Regions from separate parts of the Homo sapiens genome. Here region 1 is linked to region 2. Evidence: fine-mapped expression QTL. A gene starts in region 2. The other region holds a variant in brackets. All regions are shown on one strand. Distances are between the middles of the regions.

Region 1 (4,386 bases), 540 kb before region 2:
AATGGGTGAATGGACAGATGGATGGATAAATACATGAATAGATAAATAAATGGGTAGATGGATGGAAGGAAGGAAGGGTGAATGGAAGGATGATGGATGGTTGAATGTGTGGATGAAGGAATGGAAGGATGAATGGAAGGAAATATGGATGAACAGATGGATGGAAGGATGGAAGAATGGGTGGATGGATGAATGATAGATGAATGGGTGGATGGATGGCTGAATGGATGGATGGATGGAAGAATGGACGGATGGATGGATGGATGGAGGGGTAGATGGATGAATGGAAGGATGGATAGGAAGAAGATGAATGGAAGGATGGATGAATGGATGAATGGATGGATGGAAGGATGAATGGATGGGTGGATGGATGAGTAGATGCATGGACGGGTGGATGAATAGGTGTGTGGGTGGATGAGTGGGTGGATGGATGGATGAATAGATGGAAGAATGGACTGATGGATGGATGGATGAATGGATGGATGGATGGATGGATGATGGATGGATGAACAGATGGATGGATGGATAAATGGGTGGATTGATGAATGGAAGGATGGATGAAAGCAAGGATGGATGGTGGATGAATGGAAGGGTGGATAGATGAATGGACAGACGGACAGATAGATGGGTGGATGGGTGGATGAGTGGATGGGTGGGTGGATGGATGGATGAAGGGATGGGTGGATGGATGGATGGGTAGGTGGACAGATAAATGGATGGATGACGGATGGATGGGTGGATGCATGGATAGATGGGTGGATGGACAGACAGATGGGTGAATGGCTGGGTGGAAGGATGGGTGGATGGATAGATGAATGGAGAGATTGATGGATGGGTAGACTGATGGATGGAAGGATGGATGTGTGGGTGCGTGGATAAGTGAATGGATGATGGGTGGATGAATGGATAGATGAGTGGATGGGATGAATGGGTGGGTAGATGAGTAGATGGATGATGGGTAGATGATGGATGGGTGGATGGATGGATTGGTGGACAGATGGGTGAATGGAAGGATGGATGAATGGATGGATCGATGGTGGTGGTGGCAAAATGGAAGACCTTCCGTCAACCCCACTTGCGTTCCAAGAGACAGGAGAGGACCCAGATTCAGAACCAGGGAAGTGCTTGCCTAAGAGTAGGCTGTGTCCTCAGGCCATGTCACCTAACCTGTCCAGGCCCGCTTCTCATTATTAAAAGGCCCCAGAGGAGCTGCTTTCCACACCTTTCATCATGTGACAGCTACATGAACTGAACTGCTGAGTTGCAGGGCCTCCTCTTAAAGACCTTAAGATCTTATTGGAGGGAAAGGCAAGCAGGCAGAAAGATGGAACTAACTTCAGGGCAGCTCCTGAGCAGGAATGTGAACCCAAAGGGCTGAGCGAAGGAGCCCATGAGGAAGTGAAGTCATTTGGGGTGGGACACTGCAGGAGCCCAGCCAGGTGTGTGGGGACAGTGGCTGTGGTTAGGACAGTGGGACACAGCCAAAGGAGAGCCTGGGATGCTGGTCTAAGGAGGGCAGCCTGGGATTCCTGGACCGGGCCTCCCTGACCATTGGTGGCCACTTCTGAAAAGGCCTGAAGGCCGGGAGCAGTGGCTCACGCCTGTAATCCCAGCACTTTGGAAGACTGAGGCAGGTGGATCACGAGGTCAGGAGTTCAAGATCAGCCTGGCCAAGATGGTGAAACCCCCTCTCTACTAAAAATACAAAAATTAGCTGGATATGGCGGCGCATGCCTGTAATCCCAGCTACTCGGGAGGCTGAGGCAGAGAACTGCTTGAACC[C/T]GGGAGGTGGAGGTTGCAGTGAGCCGAGATTGCACCACTGCACTCCAACCCGGGCGACAGAGCGAGACTCCACCTTGAAACAAACAAACAAAAAGGCTGGACGCAGTGGCTCACACCTACAATCCCAGCACTTTGGGAGGCCGAGGCGGGCGGATCACTAGGTCAGGAGATCGAGACCATCCTGGCTAACACGGTGAAACCCCGTCTCTACTAAAAATACAAAAAATTAGTCAGGCGTGGTGGCGGGCACCTGTAGTCCCAGCTACTCGGGAGGTTGAGGCAGGAGAATGGAGTGAACCCAGGAGGCGGAGCTTGCAGTGAGCCAAGATCATGCCACTGCACTCCAGCCTGGGTGACAGAGCAAGACTCCGTCTCAAAAAAAAAAGAAAAAAAGAAAGAAAAAGTGAAAAAGAAAAGGCCTGAAGACCCCGGGGCTGGGGAAAGGTGGGGACCAGTCTCCTCACTCTTGTTCCCCTCCAGAACTGGACTGAGCCACAGCCACAAGCTTCAAGGGCTGCCCAAACACCCCAGACTCTGGGTTTGGGACCCCTACCACCCACAGCGAGAAGACACAGCCTTCTAGTGGGGGACCCCTCCTTCTAGAGAGGGAGAGGTCATGAGAAAGTGAACTTCTCAGCAACATTCAAGAAGGTTCCACACACACACTTATGTGTTCACTGCAGCGTTACTCACAACAGCAAAGACACAGAATCAACCCAGATGCCCACCAACGGTGGCCTGAATCAAGAAGATGTGGTACATCTACACCATGGAATACCAACCAGCCATTAAAAAAAATCATGGCTGGGCGCAGTGGCTCGCAACTGTAATCCCAGCACTTTGGGAAGCCGAGGCGGGTGGATCACAAGGACAGGAGATCGAGACCATCCTGGCTAACACAGTGAAACCCCATCTCTACTGAAAATACAAAAAAATTAGCCAAGCGTGGTGGTGGGGACCTGTAGTCCCAGCTACTTGGGAGGCTGAGGCAGGAGAATGGCGTGAACATGAACCCAGGAGGCGGAGCTTGCAGTGAGCCAAGATCACGCCACTGCACTCCAGCCTGGGCGACAGAGCAAGACACCGTCTCAAAAAAAAACAAAAAACATGTTGTTTGCAGAAACATGGATGCAGCTGGAGGTCATTATCCCAAGCGAATTAAGGCAGAAACAAAAAACCAGAGACTGCATATTCTCACTTATAAGTGGGAGCTAAGCATTGGAGACACATGGACATAAAGAGGGGAACAATAGACACTGTGGACTACTAGATGGGGGAGTGAGAAAGAGGACAAGTGTTGACAAACTACCTATTGGGTACTATGTTCACTATCTGGCTGATAAGATCAACAAAAGCCCAAACCTCAGCATCATGCACTACATCCATGTAAAAAACCTGCACACGTCCCCCCTGAATCTAAAATAAAGTTCACTCAGAAGTTCTTCCTCTGAGGAGCTTCTGCAGATGAGGAGGTGCTTCCACATCCTGCACCATCTCCTGCTTGGCTGCTGTGCCCAAGGCCAAGACTTTGAGGGGACTGCGTGCTGGGGCCTCGTGCAGAAGAAGAGCTGGGCCTCAGGTCACAGAGTAAGCTGGTCCTGGGCTTCCAGCTTCTTGCTCCCTTACTCTTTTCATCACACAGGCAGCCAGGACCCAGACCTCCATCCCTTTCCCCTCTCTACCTCACCCTGCGTCAGAGACACACCCCCTAGGAACTGGGCAATTCTGGTCAATTCTCCCCACCCGGGCAGCCACCCTCCTACCTACCACCACTACTAGGCCGGGCTACCTCCTGAGATTCTCTGCCTGAGCCAGTCCTCCATCTGTTCATTCAACACACTTGCCCGGGTGTGTCTGCAGAGCTCCAGATCAGCCAGGGGGGGCAACCCATGAGCTGTGGAACAAAGTGGACCAAGGAAACAGGTACCCCCTCCACCCAGTGGAAGACCATCCCCTAGGAGAAAGCCCCCCAAAATTAGTGTATCTCTAAAATTCATATCCACCTAGAACCTCAGAATGTGATTTTTTTTTTTTTTTTTGAGACAGAGTCTTGCCCTGTCGCCCAGGCTGGAGTATGGTGGTGCGATCTCGGCTCACTGCAACCTCCACCTCCCGGGTTCAAGCGATTCTCCTGCCTCAGCCCCCCAAGTAGCTGGGATTACAGGCGGGCACCACTATGACTGGCTAATTTTTTTTTTTTTGTATCTTTAGTAGAGACGGGGTTTCACCATGTTGGCCAGGCTGGTCTTGAACTCCCGACCTCGTGATCCGCACCCCCTTGGCCTCCCAAAGTGCTGGGATTACAGGTGTGAGCCACCACACCCAGGAAGAATGTGACCTTCTATGGAAACAGGGTCTTTGCAAATGTAATTAGTTAAGATGAGATCATACTGGATTAGGTGGGCCCTAAACCCAACATCTTCAATGTCCTTAGGTGATGAGGAGAGGACACAGGGACACACAGACAAGGGAGAAGGCCACATGATGACAGAGGCAGAGAGTGCAGTGATGAAGCTACCACTCAAAGAATGCCAGGAATTGCTGGCAACCACTGGATGCTGGAAGAGGCAAGGAAGGATCCCCCTTAGACCTTTCAAAGGGAAT
Region 2 (4,386 bases):
GTTCACAAACCATCTGCACTAGCTAATAAAGGGCTATTGGGGTAGGATGAGGTTAATCAAAGGGTGGACACCCATTAGCCAAGGCTGAGAAATCTTTTGCAGTTGCTTTCCTCAAAAGGGCTCAGGGGCCAGGCAGCCACACTTGGTCACCCAATGACCAAGGAATCTGCAGCTGCAGACCCCAGCAGCAGGGCCCCATTTCCTCACCTGAGGGTCAAAATGCCCCCACTCACCCGCTGCCTGTGTTTCCTGGGCTTCCGCTGCAGCCCTTCCACAAGGACCACGGCCTCCTCACCGCTCTCCGGCTGCTGCTCGCGTACCCGAGCCTGGATCTCCCCCGGCAGCACAGTCAGGAACTGCTCCAGCACCAGCAGCTCCAGGATCTGCTCCTTGGTGCGCAGCTCCGGCCGCAGCCAGCGGCAGCACAGCTCCCAGAGGCGGCTCAGGGCCTCCCGGGGCCCAGCCACCTCCTGGTAGCAGAAGAGCCGGAAGAGCTGGCGGAAAGTCTCAGGGCTGGGGTCCTCCGTCTCCACGGAGGGCTCCTCTTCCAAGCAGAAGTCCTCCTCCACCTTCACAATCAGGATCTCTTCCTGTTCCAGGTCCTGCTCCAAGGTTGGCAGGGGCTGGAGGCCAGGGACAGTGGCCATTGCTTCCGGTGGGCCTTGTTCCTTTTCAGGCCTTAGAGTTGAACCTGTCTCTCTCTATACCTCTGGCCAGACACAGGAAGAGAGTTTTTTTCAGGGCCCTGTGGAGAGACGATAAAACCATCTGAAGGGCAGCCCTGGGGCTGGATAAGCCCTTTGGCCTGGGAAGCCCCTGCCCTGGTTCCAAGGCCAGCTCACCCCACCATGGAAAAGGAAAAGGAAGTGGATGAATGTCATCTTTGTTATTAACCCCCTGTTAATTCCCGGGTAATTTACTGAAGGGCTCTGGGCTTTGCTTCCTCACTGGGCAAACAGAGATGATAACAGGACCTACACACACAGGTTGCTGACAGAACTAAAAGGGATGGCTGGGGGCAGTAGCTGACGCCTGTAATCCCCGCACTTTGGGAGGCAGAGGAGGGCAGATCACGTGAGTTCAGGAGTTGACCACCTGGTCAACGTGGTGGAACCCTGTCTCTACAAAAAATACAAAAATTAGCCCGACATGGTGGTAGCACATCTGTAATCCCAGCAACTCGGGAGGCTGAGACAGGAGAATCGCTTGAACCCGGGAGATGGAGGTTGCAGTGAACTGAGATAGCGCCACTGCACTCCAGCCTGGGCGACAGAGAGAGACTCAAACAAAAACAATCTAAAAGGGATGTTTGCGGTCAGAGCTCGAGAATCGTTATTTTCCATGATTAGAGTGGGTCCTATATGGAAGGGGTTCCTTTGGAAATCTGATGAAAAGTAGGGCCTTTCTGCAGACTCTGCCTCAACTTGATCCCCGGTGTCCAGGTCTGGCGAACCCTGAAGCCCCTACGCGGCCCCGTCAGGCACCCCCGCGTGGGTGGTCACGACAGCCCCCCAATTCCAGGGTCCTGGGAGAGCTGGGACCCCCAGGCCGGGCTGCTTTCCCGTCTCATCCCTCAGGTGGAGGGTGAGCGGTACCCGAGGCCGCGGCACAGACCCGGGTGCTGGCGCGGGCCGCGAAATCGAAGCTTCGGCCGGGACCCGCGTCCCCGCGCCCCCCGCACTCACTGGAAGCGCTGCCGGCCGTGGGCAGTTCGGGGCAGGACCGGAGCGGCGGGTCTCGGCGGGAGTAGGACTGCGGGCCTCAGGCTTGGCAGCCAGGGACGCCAGAGCCGGGGCCGAAGACCCTAAACCAGGGGTGCAAACCAGGCCGTGCGGGTGGGCCCGCAGGCGGCATTGTGGGTAACGTAGCCGTGGCACCATTGGCTAAGCCGGCCGTTGGGGGCGTGGCAACACGGCCGAGTGGGCGGGTCCGCGACGTGCACTGTGGTTAATGTGGTCCTCAAAGGCACGCATTGTGGGTAACGTAGTCCAGCACCTCGGTGACCGCGCGAGCGTGCGGCGACTCTGCAGCCTCTGGGCTACTTTCCCAGTCACTGTTCCACACCCGCTCCGCTCTCCTCTGGCCGCCTCCTCCATCTTTAAAGCCAGCAAAGTCGTCCGGGCACGGTGGCTCACACCTGTAATCCTAGCACTTTGGGAGGCCGACGCGGGCGGATCACCTGAGGTCGGGAGTTCGAGACCAGCCTGACTAACGTGGAGAAACCTGGGCGTGGTGGTTCATGCCTGTAATCCTAGCTACTCAGGAGGCTAAGGCGCAGGTTGCAGTGAGCCGACATCCTGCCATTGTCCTCCAGCCTGGGCAACAAGAGCGAAACTCCATCTCAAAAAATAAATAAATAAATAATAAATAAATAAAATAAATAAAGGCAGAAGTTGTTCAAGATAAAACTGGAAGAGATGCCAAGTGCTTGCGCCCACCCTCCCCCAAGAGGGCCCCCAACAACGTCCAACCCCAAATATCCCTTGTCCTGCCTGCTTCTTTCTGACAACATAATAATGGGCATCAATCTTTGTTGTTGTTGTTAGAGATGAAGTCCCACCATGGTGCCTAGGCTGGTCTCAAACTCCTGGGCCCAAGCAATCTTCCCGCCTCAGCTTCCCAAAGTGTCAGGATTACAGGTGTGCCCAGCCAGGTATCAATTCTTGTATGTATGTATTTATTTATTTAGAGACAGGGTCTCACTCTGTCGCCCAGGCTAGAGTGCAGTGGCTCGACCTTGGCTCACAGCAACCTCCGCCGCCCGGTTTTAAGCAATTCTCCTACCTAACCTCCCGAATAGTTGGGATTACAGGCACGAACCACCAGGTCCGGCTAATTTTTGTATTTTTAGTAGAGATGGGGTTTCCCCATGTTGCCCAGGCTGGTCTCCAACGGCCTCAAGCAATCCACCCACGTCAGCCTCCCAAAGTGCTGAGATTACAGGAGTAAGCCACCGCTCCCGGTCGCATCAATTCTTGAGCATCAAGCAAGCAAAACACATTTGTACTTCGTTTCTTCCTCATTTAGTAATAGAGGTACTATAACTAGACCTACCGGTTCAACAAAACAAAACAAAACCCTGAAGCTCTGAGAGTTTTAAGTATTGAACCCCCCAGAGAAGGTCAAACAGGAAGTACAGAAATGGGATTGGAACCCAAATCTTTGATTCCAGAACTTCAGCTCCTAACTACCAGGTTAACGTAGTTTGCCCCTAATCCTAACTTGGGCATCCTAAGGCCCGTCTCCTATGCTGGATTCTCGCTGCTTTTCCTCTTTGGTTGAACATGATCCGGAGTTTCCCTCTGCCTGGGGTGCCCAGGAAAGAGTCCCAGCACCGAGTTCGGGTGAGCAGCAACGCAGCATACACAGCAGGCGTACACTCAACGTACGCCCCGCCCCGCACAAGCTCCGCCCCGCATGCGCGCCCCGCCTCGCATCCCGGATCTACCCCCGGAATCTCGCGCGTCTTTCCCAAAGCATCGGCTAGGACTCAGCCCGCCGGAAACAAATTTGGGGACGCCGGATTCAGGAAGCTGGCAGGACTACATTTCCCAGAGCGCCCCGCGCCCTCCCCGGAGGCAGATTCCTGGGCGCTCTAGAGGGGGTGGGTTGGCGGCCTGGAGGGTCTCCTCAAGTGGCGGCACTGCCAGGGGCTCGGAGGAAGGGGCTGCAGTCTCCCGGTGGCAGCGTCCTTGTCGTCGAGACTGCGGGCGGTTCCCTTGCGCGCCCTGAACCTCAGTTTCCATATCTGTTAATGGGGGACATTAACCCTCAAGGTTGTAACTCATTCAAGACCATTCATCCAGGCATAATAAATGCATAAACGCTGCACGTTGAGTCCTCCCAACTGCCCCCTTAACTAGGCGCTCGGGTGATGGAGTGGTGGCAGGTGCCTGCTTTCATGGAGCTTGCCATGAGAGGCATACAGTGGACAAAATTACCATGAGAGGCATACAGTGGACAAAATTGCACGAAGAATTGTTTAATCACTTCTTTGGCAAATGTTAGCAAGCGGCGTAAAAGAGGGAACCTGATACCTTCAGGGTGGAAGTGACAGTTGAGCAGCCTAGGGTTAACCTGGGGAACCGGTGGGGAGGATTCCAGACAGCAGGAGTGAAAAGTGCAAAGGTCCTGGGGCCGGAGAGAACACGGTGCGTTTGAGGAACAGAATGGAGACCAGAGATTGGGAGATGTGGCTGGAGGGATGGGCAAGGCCTGACCATACTTGGAGACTCTGGTGAGGATTAAGGATTTTATCCTTGGAGTCAATAGAGTTTGGGGTTTTAAGTAGGATAGCATCGTGATCAGATAAGAAGCTTTGTGGAGTACAGATCTCAGAAAGACTGGAGAGGAGCAGTGAGACTAGCTGGAAGCTCCTGGAGTGGT

What was found. PIP is the estimated chance that this variant, and not a neighbour inherited with it, causes the effect. A credible set is the group of variants that fine-mapping cannot tell apart.
Region 1: its variant is the best candidate, but not a certain one, in a credible set for the expression of ZNF500 in lymphoblastoid cells (GENCORD, PIP 0.72).

Annotation. Positions count from the first base shown.
Region 1 is chr16:4,226,578-4,230,963 of GRCh38, forward strand. All of the region lies in intron 1 of SRL (sarcalumenin), which reads right to left. Among named protein-coding and RNA genes, the nearest start is that of SRL, 13 kb to the right of the region's middle. The variant C/T (reference allele first, on the strand shown) is at 1,783.
Region 2 is chr16:4,765,332-4,769,717 of GRCh38, forward strand. It overlaps ZNF500 (zinc finger protein 500), which reads right to left and starts at 1,831. Exons shown (of 6, transcript NM_021646.4): 1 at 1,686-1,831; 2 at 234-745. The coding sequence starts at 647. RefSeq lists a silencer at 1,578-1,877 and an enhancer at 3,070-3,149.